2 linked regions of the Homo sapiens genome follow. The protein of the gene in region 1 interacts with the protein of each later gene in a pairwise test. Each region holds a gene or a part of one and is shown on either strand. Other genes may lie near its edges.

Region 1 (12,424 bases):
TTTGTTGATTTTTAGATATTCACCTAGTACCCTGCAACACTGCTAAAGTTACTTTTTAGATCTAGTAGCTTTTTCATAGATTCCATCAGATTTTCTACATAGGTGACCAGGTCATTTTATCTCTTTACTTCATGAAGTTTTACTTCTTCTTTTCTTATTTTTAAAAAATTTTAAATTAAGTTAAATAATCATATCTTTGGATGAAAATTATTATATTTAACTGTCTGGGTTAAAGTGAGTTCTTAAATATATTTTCATTAATCATTATTTATATTTGCATGTTACTTAATAATTGGCAGGGTTGGCTGGGCACAGTGGCTCACGCTTGTAATCCCAGCACTTTGCGAGGCTGAGGCAGGTGGATCACCTGAGGTCAGGAGTTTGAGACCAGCCTGACCAACGTGGTAAAACCCCGTCTCTACTAAAAACACAAAAATTAGCCGGGCATGGTAGTGGGCGCCTGTAATCCCAACTACTCAGGAAGCTGAGGGAGGAGAATCACTTGAACCTGGGAGGCAGAGGTTGCAGTGAGCCAAGGTCACACCATCGCACTCCAGCCTGGGCGACAGATCGAGACTCTGTCTCAAAATAATAATAATAGGCAATGCACATTTTTTCTTTCTCTCTCTCTCTCTTTTTTTCTTTCTTCTTTTTTTTTTTTTTTGAGACAAGGTCTCGCTTTGTCACCCAGGCTGGAGTGCAGTGGTAAAATCTTGGCTCGCTGCAACCTCTGCCTCCCAGGTTCAAGTGATTCTCCTGCCTCAGCCTCCTGAGTAGCTGGGATCACAGGCGTGTGGCACCACGCCTGGCTAATTTTTGTATTTTTAGTAGAGACGGGGTTTCGCCATGTTGGCCAGGCTGGTCTTGAACTCCTGACCTCAGGTGCTCCACGTGCCTGTGCCTCCCAAAATGCTGGGATTACAGGCATGAGCCACCATGCCCGGCCTTTTTATTTCAATTTTCACAGCAACCCTGTAGATGATGATGATGATTTGTTAACTGGACAAATAAAAATTGTGTATATTTATGATGTACAACATATTTTGATATATGTATATATTGGGGATGGCTAAATCAAGCTAATTAACATTCACATATTTTTTATTTTTTTTTTACTAAAAACACTTAAAATCTACTCTCTCAGCAAGTTTCAAGTATATAACACTGATAGGGTTTGGCTCTGTGTCCCCATCAAATCTCATCTTGAATTGTAACTCCCACAATTCCCACATGTCATGAGAGGAACCCAGTGGGAGGTGACTGAATTATGATAAAGACATACCTGAGACTGAACAATTTACAAAGGAAAGAGCATTAATGGAGAACTCAGTTCCATGTGGCTGGGGAAGCCTCACAATCATGGCCGAAGACAAGGAGGAGCAAGTCCCCATCTCTACAAAAAATTTAAAAATTAGCTGCGCATGGTGGCACACACCTGTAGTCCCAACTACTTGAGAGGCTGAGGGAGGATTGCTTGAGCCCAGGAGTTCGAGGTTACGGAGAACTATGATCGTACCACTGCACTTCAGCCTGGGTGACAGAGTAAGACCTTGTCTCTTTAAGAAGGAGGGTCTTTCCTGCACTGTTCTTGTGATAGTGAACGAGTCTCGCAAGATCTGATGGTTTTAAGAAAGTGGCAGTTCGCCTGCACGAGTTCTCTCTTTGCCTGCTGCCATCCACGTAAGATGTGACTTGCTTCTCCTTTTTTTCAGCCATGATTGTGAGGCTTCCCCAGCCACATGGAACTGAGTTCTCCATTAAACCTCTTTCCTTTGTAAACTGCTCAGTTTCAGGTGTGTCTTTATCAGTAGCATGAAGATAGACTAATACAAATACCTTATTTATTAACTATAGTCACCATATTGTACAATAGTTCTTCTGAACTTATTCCTATTAACTGAAATTTTGTATCCTTTGACCAATCTTCCCTCCCCTCCACTCCCCTTTACTCCCTCCCTCCCTCATTTCCCTCCCTCCCTCCCTCATTTCCCTCCCTCCCCCCTCCCTCATTTCCCTCCCTCCCTTCCTTCACCTGATACCTGTGGTAATTGTGTCTTCTTTTCTAATTCAGGTATTTCGTGCTGTAAGTTTCCCTTTAAGTACTGCTTTAATGACATTCCATAAATTTTGATATATTTGTTTTCATTTTCATTCAGTTCCAAGTGCTTTTTAATTTCCCATTGATTTCTTCTTTGACCCATGGGTCACTGAAATGTATATTATTGAGATTCTGAAGATTTGGGAACTTCCCAAAAATCTTTCTGAAATTTATTTCTAATTTAATTCCACTGCTGTCAGAGAACATGCTTTGTATGCCTTGATTCTTTTAAAGGTACTGAAACTTGTTTTATGGCCCAGAAGATATTAATATTTATCTTGGTAAATGTCCCATGTGCACTTGAAAAGAATGTGTATTTGCTGCTGTTGGGTGGAGTGTTCTACAGATTGCCTGTTACATACAGTCTTTTCCTTTCACTCCAGATCTTGTTTTCCTCTCCAGAGAAAATGACTATTAACAGTTCTTATTGCATCCTTCTAGAAATTCCTTATGGAATATGAGTAAATATGGGTATTAAGCTACACTTAAACTTTTAAAAAACTCAGGCTCACATTACCCATGTAATTCTGCCTCCTGCTTTTTTTTTTTAACCTATCACAATAGCTCAAAGAGAAACCCATAGTAGCACAAATATATCTAACTTATTCTTTTTAACAGCTGTATAGTATGCTACTGGTGGATGCACCATGATTGATTTAACCTGTTTCCTGTTAATGGCATGGTATCCAGGTTGTTTCCAGCCTTTTGCTATGATGCTGCTGCAATAAATATTCTTTTTTAAAAAAATAAATATTCTTGATGTGACTGACTTAAGGACTTCGAGATGGGGAGATGATCCTGGATTCTCTGAGTGGGCCCAGTGGAATCACAACAGTCCTTATAAGGGGTCGGGGGCAGGAGTTAGAGAAGGAGATGAGACAATGTAAGTAGAAACTGGAATGATGCAGGGTCATGAGCCAAGGAAGGCAGGTGGCCTCTGCAGGTAGAAGGGCAAGGAAGTGATTCTCCTCTGGAGCCTCCAATACTATAACCCTGCTGACCCCTCAATTTTAGTTCAGTGAGAGCCATGTTGCATTTCTTACCTCCAGAACTGTAAAATATCACTGTGTTGTTTTAAGACACAAAGGTCATAATAATTTGTTACAGCAGCAAGAAGAAACTGATACAGTCTCCAAACATTTCTGATTGTACCATACTCATCAGCAAAAAATTTTCTACTGCACAGATCCATCATATATATTGTAGAGCAAACATAAACAGAAATTGAAAAGGATAAAGGGGATACAAGAAGTTTCAAAATGCATTTTTGTATGTATTTATGTACTAACAGTACAAAACCCTTGTGGTTATCACTAAAATTATTTGCATAATAGTATTAATAAATTTTTAATCAGTGAAAAAAATAAGTATTCTTTTTACTTAAGTGTTTGTACCTAGGTCAAAGTTTATCTTTCGGATAAATTCTTAGATGTCGAATAGTTGAGTTAAAAGGTCTATGCATTTTAAATTTTGTTAGATGTTGCCAAATTACACGGAAGAGCCTTCCCAATTTCTTCTTGAGAGATTAAAAAAATTCTTCTTCTCTTGGCAAAGGAAGTTGATCTTAGAAGTTAAAAAATCCTTCAACTTCTTTTTAGATAATTTGTATCATATTTAAAAATGTAAAAAGAAAAAAATCCTTAAGTAACCAATGATTTGGTTTTTCTCTTAAGTAACATGAGATGTTCAGATTCTGCCCTCTATATCAGCAAATTGCCCTGTAATCATCTGCAAATTGTTGGCACTTCACACACACATTAATGCATGTCAATGCAGAGTGTCCTGTGGCGAGGATGGGGTGCATGGGGGATGTGAGTGGTGAGAGCACCAAAATACTATATCCAGGCAGTGCACACAGTGAGTGTGATCTGTCTGTCAGTAAACCTCTAGAGCCTCTGGAGTTTGGAACCAACCACTCAAGGATATCCTGGATAATTTCAAAAGTAGAGTTTTTATGGGAAATTTAAAAAGAGTGCATGAATGTGTGTGTGTGTGTGTGTGTGTGTGTGTGTGCGCGCGCGCGCGCACGTGCACATGTGCACACACATATGCTTAAATTCCTTTACAGTGAACACTAGGAAAAAGAGGCAGGAGACCTCAGCTACAGCTGACCATTATTTACGTCATTAGATTTTATGTCAGCTTGTTAGACACACAGTAAAAACCATCTCAACCACTTACTGTTGAACCTTTGATCAAGGGATAAAGGAAGAACAGAGGGAAACAAGACAGAAAAATTTCAAAGACACAATGAGCCTTTATATTCACTCCTGATGGGAATGAAGAGAACCTTCCCACAAAACTCAAATTCTGGGGAGGTAAGTTTTTCGTTTGCCATTCAGTTCACCATTGAATTATAGACGGATAGTGGCATCTACTCGATGGTTTCCTGCTTATAGTTCCTCTCTGCCCTAATTTCTCATCAATGTTTTGTTTTTATCTCCTTTGTTGAAATGAGATCGGAAGAACCACATTCTGAAAATCAGGATGGCTAAAGATAATTCAAGATGATGACAGAGAAAAACTTTGTTAAACTTCAAACTCTTCAAAGAAAGTTATTAAATAGGTACTATGCATCATTAAATATTCTGGGATGAGATCACAATGACCAAAATCAATGCTCAAGCTCTAAACCTTTTAAAAAGTTGACTTTATTTAACATGCTTTGCCATATTGTCTCCATTTGTCATCAAACCAAGGATAACTCACTCATTCCCAGTGATGGAAAATTTAAGGGCTAAAATCAATAGCCACACCAAGAACCCCAGGAACAAAACAGGTGGGTCTTCCCTATTGTTCCTTTTCTAACAATCAACCAATTAATATTTGTTGATGACTGTCTCCACACCATCGTGCTAGCTTAGCTTCTGCAAAGCCCTACAGCATCAGTAGGTTTCAGAAAAGAAGACAAAGGAACGAAACTCAGTGATATCTACTGACATTCTAACGTATTGCTGCCATGTTATTTAATGTTGATAAGCCAAAACCACCTTGTAAAAGAGAAGATGTGCATAGCAGGTCTGGGGAATGAATGAATGAATCCACAGGCTGGTGCATTAGTTGCATAGGGATGTTACATACTAAGTTCTGTGACCACAGAGGGGTCAGGACATGGACTCTGCCACATGTTGCTCATAGTGTAGGTGGCATCCATATCAAGGTTGTGGACATTTATTGTTTTTGCTCACCCATTGTCTCTTCTGTCTTCTTGTAGTTACAATGCTCTAGGTTTTTTGAGGTGATCACCTCTTCCTCACTCTCAGTCCCTGGTGGTTGAGGTGAGGCTGACCCCAACTCTAGCTCCAGCCGTAGGCATGAGCCCAAAGTCTGCTGCTTCATCCCAGCATTCCATTCCACTGACCACAGAGATTGGTTTGGGGATGAGCATGTGACCTAAGCTGGGCCAATGGGAGCTTTACTTGGGACTTTTGCAGGAATGGCTAAGAAGGAGGAACTATGTTTGCTGGGATGGATTAGCAGACAGGATTGAGCTCTGGGTAGCTGGTGGCCATCTTTGCCACCATAGGGGAGGAGCTTGCCTGAGAACGGAACGAACCCAGGAAAATTCAGAGCCAGAAGGAAGAGAGAAACTAAGTCTCAACATTGTCATTGGAACACCTGGACCTAGCTCTAAACCCCTGTACATCTAGGTTAGATATGCCTAAAAGTTCATTTGCTTTTTCTTAAACTAGTTTGAATTGGATTTTCTATGTCTTTTGAAGCCAAAAAATCTTGGCTAATCAAAAGGGTTTCCTAAAACTATTGTGCCATCAGAAACAAACATCCTTAAAGATAACCCGATTAAAAAATGGGCAAAGGACATGAACAGACACTTCTCAAAAGAAGACATACATGCAGCCAACAAGCATATGAAAAAATAATATCACTGGTCATTAGGGAAATGCAAATCAAAACCACAATGATATACCATCTCACACCAATCAGAATGGCCATTATTAAAAAGTCAAAAAATAACAGATGCTGGCAAGGTTACAGAGAAAAGGGAATGCTTATACATTGTTCATGGGAATGTAAATTAGTTCAGCCACTGTGGAAAGCGGCCTGAAGATTTCTCAAGGAACTTAAAATGAAACTACCATTTGGATATATACCAGCAATCCCATTACTGGGTATATATCCAAAGGAATATAAATTTTTCTACCATAAAGACACATGCATGTGTATGTTCATTGCAGCACTATTCACAATAGCAAAGACAAAGAATCAACCTAGATGCCCATCAATGGCAAACTGGATAAAGAAAATGTGGTATATATACACCATGGAATACTACGCAGCCATAAAAAATAAGATCATGTCCTTTGAACCAACATGGATAGGGCTAGAGGCCATTATCCTAAGTGAATTAACACAGGAACAGAAAACCAAATACCACATGTTCTTACTTATAAGTGGGAGCTAAACATTGAGTACACATGGATACAAAGAAGGGAACAATAGACCCAAGGACCTACTTGAGGGTAGAGGATGGAAGGAAGGTGAGGACTGGAAAACTACCTAGTGGGTATTGTGCTGATTATCTGGGTGACAAAATTATCTGTACACTAAACCTCCACGACATGCAATTTACCCATGTAACAAACCTGCATGTGTACCCCAAACCTAAAATACAAGTTGAAAGAAAAAAAAAATGAACATGCTTAAGGATGTTTTGAAGGATTGTATAATTCTTGAGGACCCTGAGTCGCTATACTTGAACCCCTCTTAGACAAAGAATCAACATTTGAAAGCCTCTGCCCTTCTGTTCTCAAACGGATTTTAGATAACATATTCCTGGCCGTACACAGCCAGGCTGTGTACACAGTTCCTGGCTGTGTATGGCCAGTGCATAGCAGGAGTGCTGGTTATGGGGGCCAACAAACTGGGATTGGGATCCTAGCCCCACCAATCACTAGCAAGCTCCTTATCACTCTCATCTTCATTGTTCTTATCTAGAAAAAGGGTGGGGATAATATAAACCTGTTTTTGTGAGGATTATGCCTCTCCTTATCACAGTTTGTAATGAGATATTTGTATGATTATTTGATTCCTGTCTGCAAAGCTTAACTCTACACTGCACTTTATTTCCCAAACTAAAGGGAGGGCCTGGAATGCAGTGGGAGCTTACCAAATATTTGTTGAATAAATATATAAGTAAATGATTAGAGAAGACCACACAGGTATGTGCTCAGCACGAAACAGATGGGTATTTTATTTATTTATTTAATTTTTTGAGATGGAGTTTCACTCTTGTTGCCCAGGCTGGAGCGCAATGGCGCGATCTCGGCTCACTGCAACCTCCGCCTCCCAGGTTCAAGCGATTCTCCTACCTCAGCCGCCCTAGTAGCTGGGATTACAGGTGCCTGCCATGACTCAGGCTAATTTCTGTATTTTTAGTAGAGATGGGGTTTCATCATGTTGGCCAGGCTGGTCTCGAACTCCTGACCTCAGGTGATCCACCCGCCTCAGCCTCCAAAAGTGCTGGGATTACAGGTGTGAGCCACCGTGCCCAGCTGGTAATATTATAAATACTACCAGGGTTCATCAACTCCAAGGCCTACATGGGCCAGGCAGTAATGAACATGGGGTAAGCTAGCTAGATGTGGAATTGGGTGTGTCCTTTCTAAAAAGAGCAGACACACTTAGTTTTAACCAAGTGGTGTTCCTTGGGAATGTGGCTACTATGGCCAGATCTTCTTTCAAAAGAAGCCAGAAAATAGAATTTTTAGGTATTTATAAAATTTTCTGACTTTTAAACGTAAATGCAATTAAACACATGCACAAACAGGCCAACAAAACATGTCTGAGAGATGGATTTAGCCCTTGGGAGCCTGTTTGTGACAACTGGGACCCATATCCAGGTCCCTCCTTCAGAGAAGCTCTCAGGCCACATCCATGAATGACCCTTGGGTAACCTGTTTGTTACAATTGGGACCCATGTGCGGGTCCCTCCTTCATAGAAGCTCTCAGACCACAGCCATGAATGGCCCCACCAGTGACTGCACCTACCAGCAAGTGACTCGGAACTCTGGTTGGGGACGTTGTGAGATGCCTCCTGGAGGACGTAGGTGGACGTGGAGAGGGGCGAAGGGCAGATGCTGCTGGCCGGGACGTAGGGAGGGTTGTAGGATGAGCCGTAATACTGGGGGTACTGGCTCTGGGGGAAGCCGGGGTAGGAAGGATAGTCCTGGGAAGAGAAAAACAAACCAAGGACATATGTGAGGAAGCCTTTCTGGGCTCGGGCCGTTGGTCAGCCTGGCCACTCTGTCTCACCATTAGAATAAAAGCTCTCTGTGGGCAGAAACTGTCTTCATTTTGGTTTCCCAGAAGCAGACCCCGGGGCAAGGATTCAAGTGCAAGGAGGCTGTTTGGAAGGTGAAGGAGACACCAGCAGGGGATCGGGGAAGTGAGAGAGATGCGGGAGAGCAGCCTGCATAGGTGCTTCTGTGGTAGTGACCAGAGATGAGCCCTATGAGGAAAAGCTGAGATGGTCTAAAATCCACATCTCAGAACTGCCTCTCCCACGGGTCAAGGGAGTGGAGGGGTTTATACATCAACTTGTTGGTCTTTGAGAGCTGCACCCAGGGGGCTTTAATTCCCAGGCACTTCCTGCCTGCCCCGTGCACTGGTTCTAGAAAAGCCCCTTGGGCCCAGGCATGCAGATGCTGGCACCTGGAGGTCCACAGGCCACCCTAAGGGATATAGACGTGGCCCTGATGGCACCTGTCCTGGTCACTATTGTATCCTCTGCACCTGAAACAGTGCCTGGTATATGCAGTAACTCAACAAATACTGGTTAAATTAATAAACAAATGCATTAACAATTAAGACCACACTGCACCCCCCCCCCACGACACACACACAAACCTAGAAGACCGCACACACACCCACACGACACACAAACCCAGGAGACTAGGTGACATTTTATGTTCATGGGGAGGAGGTGCAAATACAGCAGCACCTACACAGCATTAGGGGTCCAGAATATTCTATGAGGGAGTCATGGAGATCAATTCAATAGCTGCCAATCACCTTTGATCAAGCTTTGTTTAAGCAGACCAGCGATCCCAATTCTCCAACAGTCATTGTTTCAAATATCCTGCCGCACTATCACCAAACCAGTGCTTCTCAACCCTGCACGGAACTCATGGAACGTTCTGCTTCCTGGGCCCCACCCCAGAGCTGGGAGTCAGAGTTCCTGGGGGTGGGGGTTGCGGGGGTGGTCAGTGTTTTTGAAAAACACAGATTTAATGGTGAAATGGAGGGTTAAGAACCACATCTTAAAAAGTACTGTTTTATTTATAAGTATTTTATCTATGTACATAGTACATTAGAAATAATGCAAAAATACATGAAACAATTTTTACATTTGCTAAGTTTTAAATTATTTAGATTCTCACTGGAAAAGAAATTGCGTATTCCTCAGATCTAAATATGTTAAATATTCCTAAAGCCCATCTACCCCAGGGTGGTTCTGTTTTAAATGGTAGCCTGAAAGCAGGTGAACCTTTTGTTTTGAAATAATTTTAGGTGTACAGGGAAGGTGTACACACAGCAGAGTTACTGCACACTTTGAGCAGATGCGAACTCTTAATTCACTTTGTAAGTGACACCAAGAGAATCAAAGTACTAGCCAACATTTACCTATATAGAGTTGACTTTGCTCTATTTAACAAGTATTTATAAAGCCCCCACTGTGTGCTGGGCTCTCACCACTGGGGATGCAGAGGTGAGCAAGATATACGGTCCCCCTTGAGAAGCCCATGGTCTGGTGAAAGAACCCACCCATTTGTATTGATATATATCAGATTCAACAGTCAATGGGTGTCCTGAGTCCAGGTCAAGATGGAACATACTTGTAGATCTCCATGACATCTCAGGAATCTTCTAACAATTCCTACGTCTCCGCCTGTATACTGTGTCCTTCCAGCAGCCTTTTGCACAATCTAGCCCCTGTAGTCTCCAAACCCAGGGACTAAGAGGCAGGTTCCCAATGGGGATTGTGTGTGTCGTGGGCTCTCTGGGTGCCCTGATGTAAGGGGAATATTTCCAGAAAGAACTGAGGAAAGAATCGGGAGGGAGCCATGTCTACCTGGTGCACACTCCCGAAACCGGCTGCGTTGCCCAGTCCATTTCCTCCTTGATAGAACCCTGTTGTGCCTGTGGGAAGGAGGAACAGGGGTACAGGTTAGGGTTCTTGTCTTTTTTTCTCTTTAAAGCAGTTGTTAGCATTTCATGAACCTCCCTCCATGTGGCTTCAAGGGTGACAGCTGGGCAGAAGCTCTGGTTCCTAGTGGTAATGCCTCACACCAGCGTTCCCAAAGCAACCCAGGTGAGACTTGTTGACACTAATCCTCTGGTGACGCCTACCACCAGCATCACCACGGCCTCCTGGGTGCTTCCAAGTGCTTGCTGATGCGGCCGTGGCTATGGCTCACGTGACCCCTAAGTCTCTGGATCTTCCTCTGTCCGGATGGCATGTTGGCGGCCCAGACCCAAGAGCCAGGTTAGGTTTCTTACAGTCGGAGAGGAACATGCAGGAGGAGGGTACCATGGCCAGGTGGGGTCTTTGAGGTCTGACAGGCTGGGATGGAACCTGTGACTTTGGTTACCAAATTTCTCTGAACCTCAATTTCCTGGATAGATGAAGAAAATAAACGGTGTCCTTTTCAAAGGGCTATGGTGAGAAATAAGTGAGATAGTGCCCACTACCCAGATCCTGGTCCTTAATAATTATGTTTTTAAAAAATTTGAGGCCAGGTGTGGTGGCCTCAGATTTTTCTGTAATTCCAATGCTTTGGGAGGCTGAGGTGGGAGGATCACTTGAGCCCCGGAGTTTGGTCATTTAAGTGTTTCACTTTTTAAAGAAATGGCCAAACTGTTTTCCAAAGTGGCTGTGCCATTTGCATTCTTACTAGGAATTCACGAGAGTTCTAGATTCTCCAGCACTTGGTAGTTTCAGTCTTCTTGATTATGGCCACTCTAGTAGTCTGGTCAACATAGTGAGATGTTGTCTCTACAAAAAAATTAAAACATTGGCTGGGCACAGTGGCTCACACCTGTAATCCCAGCACTTTGGGAGGCTGAGACGGGAGGATCAGGAGGTCAGGAGCTCGAGACCAACCTGGCCAACATGGTGAAATTCTGTCTCTACTAAAAATACAAAAATTAGCCAGGCGTGGTGGTGTGTGCCTGTAATCCCAGCTACTAGGGAGGCTGAGGCAGGAGAACTGCTTGAACTCGGGAGGCGGAGGTAGCAGCGAGCCAAGACTGTGCCACTGCACTCCAGCTCTGGGTGACAGAGCAAGACTCCATCTTGGAAAAAAAAAAATTCCAGGTGTGGTGGCGCATGCCTATAGTTCCAGCTACTTGGGAGGCTGAGGCGGGGGGATTGCTTGAACCTAGGAGTTTGAGGCTGCAGTAAACTACAATCTCACCACTGCACTCCAGCCTGCGCAACACGGCAAGACCCTGTCTCTAGAAAACAGTAAATAAAATAAAAAATAAAAATTATTTATTTAAAAAATTGTGGTATATATACAACATAAAATTTACCCTCTTAACCATTTTAAAGTGTACAGTTCAGTGGCATTAACTACATCCACATTATTGGGTACTCATCACCATCATTCATCTTTAGAACATTTTTCTTCTTGTAAAATTGGAACTATGTACCCATTAAACAACAATGCACAATGGCATAGATGTACAACATCCAATATTGGGCTATTATGGATAATGCAATATAAGCATTCACATACAAGTCTTTGTATGGATATATATTTTCATTTCTCTTGGGTAAATCCCTAAGAGTAGAATTACAGAGTTGTGTGGTAAGCATATGTTTACCTTTTAAAAGAAATGGCCAAACTGTTTTCCTAAGTGGCTGTGCCATTTTACATTCTGACTGGTAATGCACGAGAGTTCTCGATTCTCCAGCACTTGGTCATTTCAGTCTTCTTGATTACAGCCACTCTACGAAGTATGTGGTTGTATCTCACTGTGGTTTTAAGTAGCATTTCTCCAATGACTAATGGTGTTGGGCATTTTTCATGTGCTTTTTAGCCATTCACATATCTTCTTTGATGAAATATCTACTCAAATCTTTTTCCCATCAAACCCTAGTCAAATCTTTTTAAAAAATTAGGTTTGGCCTCTTATTACTGTTATAAGAGTTCTTTATATATCTTGGACACAAGTCCTTGATCAGATACATGATTTGTGAATATTATCTCCCAGTTTGTGGCTTGTCTTTTTCTTAATGGTGTCTTTTGAAGAGCAAAAGATTGTAGGTTGTTGATTTTTTTCTTTGATGCATTTTGCTTT
Region 2 (12,424 bases), on another chromosome or scaffold:
CTTTGGAGACTTTGGCTCTCAGCGCAGGAATGTGCCCTGGACTTGGGGGTGGGGTATCCCCTATACAGGTGCAGCCTCTACATTTCAAAATAGCAGCCTGGCAGGGAGTGGCCCAGCCCTAGGCTGCACGGGGCCAGGCTCTTAAGGAGTTCTGGGAGCTCCGGAGGTGGTGTGGCCACCAGGTGAAGGTCCAAGGCTGCTGGGGCAGATGGCGGTGGCAGGTGGGCTGCCCAGGGTAAAGGTGGCCGGTTGGCTCTGGGCTCCCAGACATCCAGGAATGCTCCTTGTCCCGGCAGGGGTGGGGGCACTTAATTGCTTCTCCCACAGGACTGTGGGGCAGGGGGTGATGGAATTCCTGTCCCCGAAGCTGCGCCATGGGAGGGTGGGACCCCAGGCACAGCCCGGGGTGAGGGGCTGCTCGGGATGTGGGTGGCTGAGAGGTGCTGGGGGCTGATTCTGGATGGGCAGGGCCAGCTGGCCTGAGTGCCCTCACCTCTGTCCCTTGGTTCCCTGCCTCTAGACCCTCAGGCCCCAAGGTGGGGCTCAGCCTGGGCTGCCCGCCAGGGAGGGATGGGGGAACTGAGGCCAGGCTGAGGCGCTGGTGCCTACAGCTCATCGCGCCCTTTCTGGAGTCTGAGATGGGTCCTCTTGGCTCTGGGATCTGCCTCTGGCCCCTCATGGAACAACTGAGCCTCTGGTCGGGGGCGTGGGGGTCAGCAAGAGGAGACAGATGGAAGGGCAGTTAGCAGGGGTGCTGGGCCATTGGCCTGCAGGGGCGGTGGCTCCAACTCTGGGCCGAGCACCCCCTCCTGCCCTGCCCTGGGAGCTCGGCCCTGGAAGAAAGGGGCCTTTCCAGGCCCAGCCACACCCTTCCTTGACCTGCGAGAAGCCCCGCTCATGCCCGGCCCGGCCCGCAGGAGTTTGAGAATGCGGAGGGGGACGAGTACGCAGCCGACCTGGCGCAGGGCTCCCCGGCCACGGCAGCACAGAACGGGCCCGACGTGTACGTCCTGCCACTCACGGAGGTCTCCTTGCCCATGGCCAAGCAGCCTGGGCGCTCAGGTGAGGGCTGGGTGGGGAGATGGGGTGGCCTCCCTCCGGGGCCCAGGTGCTGGGCGTTGGGTGTGATCTGGGGAGACCGGAAGACTCAGCTCTGGAGTGGGGGCAGCACAGGGCTGGGAGTGGCCTGTGGGGTAGACGCAGTGTGCAGCCCTGGACTCCCTGTGGCTGCGTCACAGGCCGCACTGTGGGGCCAAAGGTGCATGTACCTCTTTCTCCTGGGCCTGGGGGCCGGCCAGGGGTTGGCAGGGTCCAGGACAGCCCTCGGCCTCCAGCCTCCCCTGCCCAAGGGGCTGCTATGCACAGGGACAGGGGTGGGCACGGGGCAGGGGTGGGCACTGGGGCAGGGGTGCGGGCTCTCTGGTCCTGGACATGGCCATGTGCTGGGGGCAGGGGCTCTTCTGCAGTCCAGGGATGCTTGACCCCAGATTCCTGCCCCCTTGAGCGCCAGCCCTTCAGGGACACGGGTTCCATTGTGCATGGCAGGAGGAGGGGCGCTGGTGGGGCCCGTGTGGGCGGGTGGTGAATTAGCCTTTCACTCAGGCTGCGAGGAGGGGCCGAGGGGTGGGGCTGACCCAGGAGTGCAGGTGCAGGCAGGGCCTCAGCCACAGCCTCATCTGCCCCCATCCTAGGGTCCTAGGCCGACCACTCACATGGGGCGGACGTGCTGGGGAGTTTGGGGGTGAATGGCCAGGCTTCAGGACCTCCCAGTTCTGTCTTGGAGCCTAGGTGGTGGGTGCGGGTCCCTCCAGAGCTATCAGATCTCAAGCCCCCTCCCAGGAAGCTTCCAGCCTGAGGCTTCCCCCATCACTGCCCACCCCCAGCTCCTCTGGGAACACAGAGGCAGGAGGGGTATCAGGCCAGTGGGAGGGGCCCCTGCCAGCCCTGTTGGGGCTCTGTTGGCACCAGGGCCTGTTACTGCGGTGCCATGCAGGCCACCTCACCTGCTCTGAGCCGTGCCTGGCTGGACCCTGAGAGCTGGCTATGAACTGTGCCTGGCTGGGCCCTGAGAGCCTAGCCTTCATCGTGGGCTGAGAGGCCCAAGGCACTGGTCTGGGACCTAGAGAGGGCCCCCAGCCCCCAGCTTTGGAGCCAAGGCCTCAACGCCTGTCCTACTCTGCCCCATCTCCTGGAGGACAGGTTCCCAGTTCGGCAGGAATCAGGGCTGGCACTTGAGCTCGAGTACATCTGTGGGCGGGCGCGGAGGACTGCAGCCACCCACTCAGAGCGTGAGGCCCTCGGACCTTCCCGGATGGCTGTGGGGGTCCCTGAGCCCTGTGCTGACCCTGCTGGGAGCTGCCAGGGACCATCCGAGGGGGTACTGCCCTTGGGTCCAGGGGCAGGTGTGTGCCTGGCCCCCGAAGATTCTCAGAGCCACCTCTGGAGGATTGCTGTGGGGACTGGGGTTGGCGAACAGGAGCCCGAAAGAAGGCACTGGTTACCTGTCTCTCTACTTTTGCAGCTCTGGTTTCAGTTTTCTGGGGGAGGAATGTGCTTCTAGGGAGGAGAGAGATTGGGGTGAGGTCAGAAAAGTAGCCCCAGAGGTCAGCGGGGAGAAACCTGGGCAATGGCCCCACCCGCTGGGGACCGCAGAGAAGGACGGCTGCCTGCTGCCTCCGGCAGTGCCCAGGGCCTCTGAACTGTCTCAGCACCCATGGTCAGGACCCCCACACTTGCTCAGGGACAGTGTGGGCCTGGGCGCCCCAGGGTGAGAGAGGGCCGCCCAGACAGGCTGGGCTCAGGACACAGCACCCGGTGGGCCCACACGCTCAATTCTGCCCTGCCCCGCCTCTACATTCTCTGGGTCTCCAGGCCCTGGAAGGAGCCCCCTCCCCCTGGGCTCTCCTGGCAGCCAGGCTCAGACCCAGGCCTGTCAGCCCTCTGGGCAGTTGACGTGGGAGCAGAATTCGGGGAATCCCTCGGGGCGTGGGCAGGCATGAGTGGGCTCTGCCAGCGCTGGCCCCTTCGTCCCGGGCCTCACTGACCCTTCCTCCCGCTGACCTCACCCGGCCTGGCCCTCGGGGAGAATGGGCCAGTGTGCTCCGTGCGGGGCCGTGCCAAGCAGCCCCCAACAAAGGAGCCTTTGGTGCGCCCGGCGTGGGATGCCAGCCTGCGGCAGGGTGGGGGTGGGCCGCTCCAGTGCCCTCTCTGTGCCGTGGCCCCAGCCTCTTGCTCAGCCACACTGCCTGCCTGGTGCAGCCCATGTGACGGGTCGAGCTCCGGGCCCTGCTGTCCCTGGCCGGGCTATCCCAGTGGCTTCAGGCACCTTCTCCAGACCTACCCAGAAAGATGCCCGGATGGATCCTGCAGCTCCGTGGCTTTTCTGGGAAGCAGCGGCCCCTGCTCTCAAGAGACCCTGGCTCCTGATGGTGGCCCCAAGGTTGCCAGCTGGTGCTAGGGACTCAGGACAGTTTCCCAGAAAAGGCCAAGCGGGCAGCCCCTCCAGGGGCCGGGTGAGGAAGCTGGGGGGTGCGGAGGCCACACTGGGTCCCTGAACCCCCTGCTTGGTTACAGTGCAGCTCCTCAAGTCCACAGACGTGGGCCGGCACAGCCTCCTGTACCTGAAGGAAATCGGCCGTGGCTGGTTCGGGAAGGTACGTGTCCCGCCTGGGAGGGAGGACTCCCGCCTGGGAGGCAGAAGGGACACAGGGCTGCAGACCTGCTCCTCCTAGGAGCCACCCCAGCCCCGACGGTCCCTTCTTCAGTCTCTGGGCCCTGCTGGACCCTTCCCCAGGGAGGTCCTCAGCATCTGGCTGCATCCCCTTCTCCCTAGGGGGTCCTGGGGTCAGAGGTACCTGGGGAGGGGCCCTGGGAGGGAGAGGAGCAGCCTCTTGCTCATGGCCTTCCCCTGACCTTGGCCTAAACGAGACACCTGGGTCCCTCTTCCTCACTTCAAACCCCCAGAGAGAGAGAGAGAGAGGGCAGCGGGGGACCTTGTGGGGAGAGTAACACGAAAGACTCAGAATATTACAGCCAGAGGGTTGCCGGGAGGGATCCGGAAGCCATACCTCACGCTGCAATGAGTGGACGGGGCACAGGAGGAGAAGTGTCCTGTCCTGGGGGCCGGCGTGGGGCGGGTGGGAGAAGAGTAAGGCCTGGAAGCCGGGGCCGGTGGAGGCGGAGCAGCCGTGGGTGATGCTGTCTGTCCCACAGGTGTTCCTGGGGGAGGTGAACTCTGGCATCAGCAGTGCCCAGGTGGTGGTGAAGGAGCTGCAGGCTAGTGCCAGCGTGCAGGAGCAGATGCAGTTCCTGGAGGAGGTGCAGCCCTACAGGTGGGAGGCCACCGGGCACAAAGGCCTGTGCTGTGCGGCCCCCTCCTCTCCCTCCCCTGCTCGGCCCGACTCCCCCTCCCCACCTCCTCCCAAGTCAGGGGCCGCCTGTCCACTCCCGCAGGGCCCTGAAGCACAGCAACCTGCTCCAGTGCCTGGCCCAGTGCGCCGAGGTGACGCCCTACCTGCTGGTGATGGAGTTCTGCCCACTGGTGAGCTGCTGCCCGGGGGGATGCTGGGGTCTTTGCTGAGCCGGGGCCCTCCCTTGCCCTGCCAGTGTCTGGTGCCACCCCCTCCTTGGGGGCCTCACATCCTCCCTAAAGCCAAGACCCAGGGACCCTGCCCCCACCACCTTCCAGAGGAGGCGATGGGGAGACCTAGCCTCACCAGGGAGGGACTGTGGGGGCTGGGCACAGAACAGGCCTGGGCTGGGGCTCCCTGCACCCCTGGGGAGCTGCCAGCTGCTTGGTCACCTGCTTGTGTGCCCTGTGGTTCAGGAGGAGGCATCCTGGGCCAACTGGGGGGGGGCACTGGCCCACTTGGGCTCCACGGCCTCACTCAGGCTTGCTTTTGCCATGGGGGGCTGGGCCTGGCCACTTCCCCAGGCTGCCTGGAGTTCTGGGCCTGCCCATCAACGCCCCCCGCCCCGGGGACCTGTCCCCCCCTCCCCCTGAGACCTGCCCATCAACGCCCCCCTGCCCCGGGGACCCGTCTCCCCCTCCCCCGAGACCTGCCCCCCACCCCCTTCCACATATGCAGCTCCTGCACTGAGCCGAGGCTGTCTGTGGCTGGGCTGGATCCCCTGCTGGCTTCCCTCGGGACAGGGGCCCTCACACACTGGCGTCTGGACTCCTGACGTTGACCGTCCCGGGGCTGGGCTTTCGGCAGGTCAGGGGCTGCCGGCCAACCCTCGACCACCAGCCCCAGACTCCATCAAGCAGATCCACTTGGGCCCTGTGTTTCTCTCTCTACCACAGGCCAAGGGACTCCTGCTGCCCGGGGCTGGCTGAGGGGCAGTGGAGAGGAAGCCTTCAGTCCAGCCCAGCCCTGGGGGACACGGCCCCCCTCCAGGAACTGCTGGGTGCTGGCCACTGTGCAGGGCACGAGGCTGCTCTGGGCAGCTGCTGTCCCTCAGCTGTGGGTAGGGGTGGAGGAGTTGGGGAGGTAGGTGGGGACCTCCCAGGGTGGCCAGCCCCCAGCCTGCTGGTGACTGCGCCACACCCCCTTTCTGCAGGGGGACCTCAAGGGCTACCTGCGGAGCTGCCGGGTGGCGGAGTCCATGGCTCCCGACCCCCGGACCCTGCAGCGCATGGCCTGTGAGGTGGCCTGTGGCGTCCTGCACCTTCATCGCAACAATTTCGTGCACAGGTGAGGGCGGGCGCGGGCCAGCGGCCGGGAAGCCCTAGGCCAGGCCCCTCCCCTGAAGGAAGGGCATAGGGCGGGTCCTGCCTCAGGGGGCTTGCGAGGACCGGCCAGGTTCATCTCATGCAGCATCAGACAACCACTATGCAGAGGGATTTTATGACGTTTTTGAAAAATTGGGAAGACAATGGTTTGACACCCACTTTGCAGGTTTAGACGAAGAGATGCGTACTGTCAAGCTGGCCTGTTCTCTGTCCCCGAGGCAGTCAGCCAGCACCCTGCAGCCCCGCGCCAACCCCACACTCTGCTAAGCCCTCGCTTTGGGGCTTGAGGGAGACAGACCCTGCTTCGAAGGACCCTGGAGGGAGGGTTCTGTCCTGCTTGGGCCAGGATGCCCAGCCCCTGGGGACCCCGGGGGGACATGCTGGAAGAAGTGGCGAAGGACACGTGGCCCCGTCAGCCCCAGACGCCGCACGGCTGTCCTCTCCAACAATATCCTGGTGCTGAGTGATGACTCAGGCGACTCCAGCATCAGTGATTTTGTTGAAGAGGGCAGCTGCCAGCCTCCCGACCTGCCTGCCGGGCCCCAGCTGCCCTGCCCCCAACCCCAACCCACCCCACTCCACCCCCTAGGCCCAGGACACATGGCCCTGTAGCGATCCCCTGGCACGCAGACATGGGTTTTATGTGGGGAGGGACAGGCTGGGTTGGCCTCTGTCCCCACCCTGAGTCCTGAGCACAGAAGTAATACGGCAGCTGTGGTAATATCTACCCAGTACCCTGTGCCTCCTCACACCCACGTGACCAGCCAGGCAGGGTTCAAAGCCAGCAGCCAAGGCAGGCTGGGTTGGAGGTAGTGCCAGGCGTAACCTGCATTCTTTCCAGACCCTACCCAACCCTGGGGCCAGTGGTGGCTCAAGTGAGAGTGAGCTCCAGCTCTGAGTGGGCATGGCAGGGCTGGACCCTAAAACTGGACTCCGGCAGCCGGCAGGACCCCTGGGACACTCCAGGCCTCAGTTTCCCCATCAATTCCCACCTCCTGGGGAGCCGAGAGTGATAGTGTAGTAGAGCTAGGAGGAGAGGGTCCTGGAGAAGCGTGGACCGGTCCGGGTGGGTTCCGGCAGGTTCTCACCCTCTCTAGGCCCCATTCTCCTCTGCACTGTAACATTTGAGGCCCACGCACACAGTCCCTCCCCAGGTCTCAGGGTTGGGCACAGAGTAGGGCCCTGGGCAGGGATGGGGGGTGGCAGTGTCTCCAACGCCCCTTCCAGCCTGGACTGTGAGCCATCCAAGTGTTGGCAAAGGACCCTGTGCTGGATGCCCCCGCCCGGCACACCCCACTGACCCTCCCCCTGCCCCCACCCGGCACACCCTGCTCACCCTGCTCACCCTGCCCCTGCCCCTGCCCCTGCCTGCAGCGACCTGGCCCTGCGGAACTGCCTGCTCACGGCTGACCTGACGGTGAAGATTGGTGACTATGGCCTGGCTCACTGCAAGTACAGAGTGAGTGGGGTGGGGTGGGCTGGGCTGGGCATGAGGGGCAGGGCCTGCGCCGGCAGGGGTGACCCGTCCCTGTGCCAACAGGAGGACTACTTCGTGACTGCCGACCAGCTGTGGGTGCCTCTGCGCTGGATCGCGCCAGAGCTGGTGGACGAGGTGCATAGCAACCTGCTCGTCGTGGACCAGACCAAGAGCGGGAATGTGTGGTGAGTGCGGCCCTGGTGGCACCGTGAGGGGCCGAGGCCGAGTGCCACCTGCCCACCCATGTCAAATCATGGCCATGAGTAGTGAGGTCAGGGGGCTGCCGGAGCCACCTGTAGTGGCCACACGCCAGCAGCCCAAGTGGCTGGTTGGGTGGCGACCCCACACCGGGGGAGATACCACCCTGACAGGGTGCCCCAGGGACCCCATGGTGGGGTCAAGGCATACGTACAGGGCCAACGGCCCGTCTTCAGCATGCCGGGGGGTCTGTCCTGAGACGGGGGCCTTGGTGAGTACCTGTCCCTGGGGAGAGGGTCTGGGTGGGGTGTTGGCTGCCTTCACGGGAGCGTAGGTCGGGCCGTGCCAGGCAGAGGGGCTGACGGTGGTGCTGGGATCTCCCACGGCCGCAGCCTGGAAGCCCCTATCCTGAGTGCCTAGCCCGGAGCGTTCATTCACACCTGGTGTAGACTCGGAAGGGGCAGGGCCGAGCCGCCAGGGGAGTGGTCCGCCCCGGGGTGGGCGCCCCTCCCTGCCTCACCTCTGCTGCTTCCCCAACCGCCCCCACCACTCCCGGGCTTTGGTCTGGCCGCCTTCTGCTTCTGGGGAACTCTCAGATCCCACGGGCCAGGCCCCCTCCCTGAGCTTTTGGGGCCTCCCCTAAGCCACTTGACTGCCCCATCATGGACACTGTCCCCTCCTCACCTCTCCACCAAGGTGCCCCTTCCTGGCCTGCCCACCCACTGCACGCTGGCTGGGGTCTCCAGTCACAGGGCTCTGGCCAAGGTCATGGTGACGTCTTGCCAAATCACCTCTGTCTCACTCTGCAGCCTCTTGGGACAGCCAGGGACCAAAGTGGCTGGGTGAAGCCACAGCCCACGGGGAAGGAGACCCCAGTTACCCTACCCGCCTGCACGCTCTGTGCACCCCTGCCTGTTACCCAGCCCTGCCCATGCTGGCCTGAGGCGTCCCCTCTCTCCCCTTCCTTCCCCCTCCCTCCCCCTCCCTCAGCCCCCTGCTGGTGCGGGCCCTACTCCGCTTTGGGCTCCACGCCCGCCCTCCAGCTCCCCCAGGGCAGCTCCCACACCGGGCAGTGTCTGGTCTTCAGTGCATCAGTGAATGAATGAATGAGTGGACAAGCAGATGGATTCGGCCAGCCCGGCCTTTATGTGCAGGCTCCACAGGTGCTGGGCTTGGGCCTGGCAGGGTGCACATTGCCTGCTGAAAGGACGCGCTGTCCTCAGGGAGGGGCGGCTGGTATGGTACCAGGCCCCGGTCCTGAGGCACTGGCGTGATGGCGGGAGCTGCCCCATTCGGCGCCCCGGGGATCCTGCGCGGTCCTTGCTGTGGCAGGCTGTGCCCAGCCCTGGCTCACGGCTGTCGCCCCACAGGTCCCTGGGCGTGACCATCTGGGAGCTCTTTGAGCTGGGCACGCAGCCCTATCCCCAGCACTCGGACCAGCAGGTGCTGGCGTACACGGTCCGGGAGCAGCAGCTCAAGCTGCCCAAGCCCCAGCTGCAGCTGACCCTGTCGGACCGCTGGTGAGGGCCCCACTGCCCTGTCCCGGACAGCCAGGCCGAGATGGGGTATCCTGATCCCCAGGCAGAGGCGGCTCACCCTGACCCCCTGGCGTTCCAGCCCTGCCTGGTCTCCCCTCCCCTCTGGTAGGGCCTCCACCCGCCACCTCTGCACCCCTGTGTACAGGGAGGGAAGGCTTAAGGATAGTGCCCAGCCCACCTCCTGCTCCCACGCTGCTGGGCTTGCCTTGGCAGATTTGGGGTGTCAATTAAGTGGGAGATACCCTTAATGCCCCCAAGACACTGGGAGTTAGGGGAACCCCCATCCCTGCTCCAGGGACGCGTTCCTGGCCAGCGTTGCCTCTGACGTGGCCCCCGGGGGACCTCCTCGCAGGTACGAGGTGATGCAGTTCTGCTGGCTGCAGCCCGAGCAGCGGCCCACAGCCGAGGAGGTGCACCTGCTGCTGTCCTACCTGTGTGCCAAGGGCGCCACCGAAGCAGAGGAGGAGTTTGAACGGCGCTGGCGCTCTCTGCGGCCCGGCGGGGGCGGCGTGGGGCCCGGGCCCGGTGCGGCGGGGCCCATGCTGGGCGGCGTGGTGGAGCTCGCCGCTGCCTCGTCCTTCCCGCTGCTGGAGCAGTTCGCGGGCGACGGCTTCCACGCGGACGGCGACGACGTGCTGACGGTGACCGAGACCAGCCGAGGCCTCAATTTTGAGTACAAGTGGGAGGCGGGCCGCGGCGCGGAGGCCTTCCCGGCCACGCTGAGCCCTGGCCGCACCGCACGCCTGCAGGAGCTGTGCGCCCCCGACGGCGCGCCCCCGGGCGTGGTTCCGGTGCTCAGCGCGCACAGCCCGTCGCTGGGCAGCGAGTACTTCATCCGCCTAGAGGAGGCCGCACCCGCCGCCGGCCACGACCCTGACTGCGCCGGCTGCGCCCCCAGTCCACCTGCCACCGCGGACCAGGACGACGACTCTGACGGCAGCACCGCCGCCTCGCTGGCCATGGAGCCGCTGCTGGGCCACGGGCCACCCGTCGACGTCCCCTGGGGCCGCGGCGACCACTACCCTCGCAGAAGCTTGGCGCGGGACCCGCTCTGCCCCTCACGCTCTCCCTCGCCCTCGGCGGGGCCCCTGAGTCTGGCGGAGGGAGGAGCGGAGGATGCAGACTGGGGCGTGGCCGCCTTCTGTCCTGCCTTCTTCGAGGACCCACTGGGCACGTCCCCTTTGGGGAGCTCAGGGGCGCCCCCGCTGCCGCTGACTGGCGAGGATGAGCTAGAGGAGGTGGGAGCGCGGAGGGCCGCCCAGCGCGGGCACTGGCGCTCCAACGTGTCAGCCAACAACAACAGCGGCAGCCGCTGTCCAGAGTCCTGGGACCCCGTCTCTGCGGGCGGCCACGCTGAGGGCTGCCCCAGTCCAAAGCAGACCCCACGGGCCTCCCCCGAGCCGGGGTACCCTGGAGAGCCTCTGCTTGGGCTCCAGGCAGCCTCTGCCCAGGAGCCAGGCTGCTGCCCCGGCCTCCCTCATCTATGCTCTGCCCAGGGCCTGGCACCTGCTCCCTGCCTGGTTACACCCTCCTGGACAGAGACAGCCAGTAGTGGGGGTGACCACCCGCAGGCAGAGCCCAAGCTTGCCACGGAGGCTGAGGGCACTACCGGACCCCGCCTGCCCCTTCCTTCCGTCCCCTCCCCATCCCAGGAGGGAGCCCCACTTCCCTCGGAGGAGGCCAGTGCCCCCGACGCCCCTGATGCCCTGCCTGACTCTCCCACGCCTGCTACTGGTGGCGAGGTGTCTGCCATCAAGCTGGCTTCTGCCCTGAATGGCAGCAGCAGCTCTCCCGAGGTGGAGGCACCCAGCAGTGAGGATGAGGACACGGCCGAGGCCACCTCAGGCATCTTCACCGACACGTCCAGCGACGGCCTGCAGGCCAGGAGGCCGGATGTGGTGCCAGCCTTCCGCTCTCTGCAGAAGCAGGTGGGGACCCCCGACTCCCTGGACTCCCTGGACATCCCGTCCTCAGCCAGTGATGGTGGCTATGAGGTCTTCAGCCCGTCGGCCACTGGCCCCTCTGGAGGGCAGCCGCGAGCGCTGGACAGTGGCTATGACACCGAGAACTATGAGTCCCCTGAGTTTGTGCTCAAGGAGGCGCAGGAAGGGTGTGAGCCCCAGGCCTTTGCGGAGCTGGCCTCAGAGGGTGAGGGCCCCGGGCCCGAGACACGGCTCTCCACCTCCCTCAGTGGCCTCAACGAGAAGAATCCCTACCGAGACTCTGCCTACTTCTCAGACCTCGAGGCTGAGGCCGAGGCCACCTCAGGCCCAGAGAAGAAGTGCGGCGGGGACCGAGCCCCCGGGCCAGAGCTGGGCCTGCCGAGCACTGGGCAGCCGTCTGAGCAGGTCTGTCTCAGGCCTGGGGTTTCCGGGGAGGCACAAGGCTCTGGCCCCGGGGAGGTGCTGCCCCCACTGCTGCAGCTTGAAGGGTCCTCCCCAGAGCCCAGCACCTGCCCCTCGGGCCTGGTCCCAGAGCCTCCGGAGCCCCAAGGCCCAGCCAAGGTGCGGCCTGGGCCCAGCCCCAGCTGCTCCCAGTTTTTCCTGCTGACCCCGGTTCCGCTGAGATCAGAAGGCAACAGCTCTGAGTTCCAGGGGCCCCCAGGACTGTTGTCAGGGCCGGCCCCACAAAAGCGGATGGGGGGCCCAGGCACCCCCAGAGCCCCACTCCGCCTGGCTCTGCCCGGCCTCCCTGCGGCCTTGGAGGGCCGGCCGGAGGAGGAGGAGGAGGACAGTGAGGACAGCGACGAGTCTGACGAGGAGCTCCGCTGCTACAGCGTCCAGGAGCCTAGCGAGGACAGCGAAGAGGAGGCGCCGGCGGTGCCCGTGGTGGTGGCTGAGAGCCAGAGCGCGCGCAACCTGCGCAGCCTGCTCAAGATGCCCAGCCTGCTGTCCGAGACCTTCTGCGAGGACCTGGAACGCAAGAAGAAGGCCGTGTCCTTCTTCGACGACGTCACCGTCTACCTCTTTGACCAGGTGGGCCGCCGCCACCCGGGGTCTGCCCGGGGCTGGGGGTCGCGCTCCCGCAGGAAGGGGTGGGAGCGGCCGCGGCTCCTGGCGGCCGAGCTACCTGGTGCTCTCTGATTCCTCCAGGAAAGCCCCACCCGGGAGCTCGGGGAGCCCTTCCCGGGCGCCAAGGAATCGCCCCCTACGTTCCTTAGGGGGAGCCCCGGCTCTCCCAGCGCCCCCAACCGGCCGCAGCAGGCTGATGGCTCCCCAAATGGCTCCACAGCGGAAGAGGGTGAGCAGGGGCGGGGCTGGGCCCGTGACGTCACGGGAGGCAGGGCCTGGTCCGTGCTGTGTGGGAGGCGGGGCCTAATGTGTGACATCATGGGAGGAGCACCTGGTCCTTGACGCGTGGGAGGCGGGCTTTGGCCCGTGTCGTCATGGGAGGCGGGTCTGGTACGTGACGTCACGGAAGGCGGGGCCTTGTCCGTGCTGCATGGGAGGCGGGGCCTGGGCCCGTGACATCATGGGA

What was found.
Region 2: the proteins of EYA2 (region 1) and AATK interact in a two-hybrid assay, tested with the Homo sapiens proteins (one study listed by BioGRID and IntAct).

Annotation. Positions count from the first base shown.
Region 1 is NC_000020.11:47,070,019-47,082,442, reverse strand, and holds part of EYA2 (protein phosphatase EYA2), read right to left. Parts: intron 10,259-12,424; coding exon 10,191-10,258; intron 8,286-10,190; coding exon 8,108-8,285; intron 1-8,107. UniProt on the Homo sapiens protein: Functions both as protein phosphatase and as transcriptional coactivator for SIX1, and probably also for SIX2, SIX4 and SIX5.
Region 2 is NC_000017.11:81,119,699-81,132,122, reverse strand, and holds part of AATK (serine/threonine-protein kinase LMTK1), read left to right. Parts: exon of another isoform or gene 1-78; intron 79-168; exon of another isoform or gene 169-221; intron 222-917; coding exon 918-1,062; intron 1,063-2,501; exon of another isoform or gene 2,502-2,965; intron 2,966-3,573; coding exon 3,574-3,653; intron 3,654-4,212; coding exon 4,213-4,331; intron 4,332-4,452; coding exon 4,453-4,540; intron 4,541-5,562; coding exon 5,563-5,696; intron 5,697-6,167; exon of another isoform or gene 6,168-6,246; intron 6,247-6,749; exon of another isoform or gene 6,750-6,847; intron 6,848-7,108; coding exon 7,109-7,193; intron 7,194-7,274; coding exon 7,275-7,396; intron 7,397-8,779; coding exon 8,780-8,929; intron 8,930-9,299; coding exon 9,300-11,922; intron 11,923-12,039; coding exon 12,040-12,187; intron 12,188-12,424. UniProt on the Homo sapiens protein: May be involved in neuronal differentiation.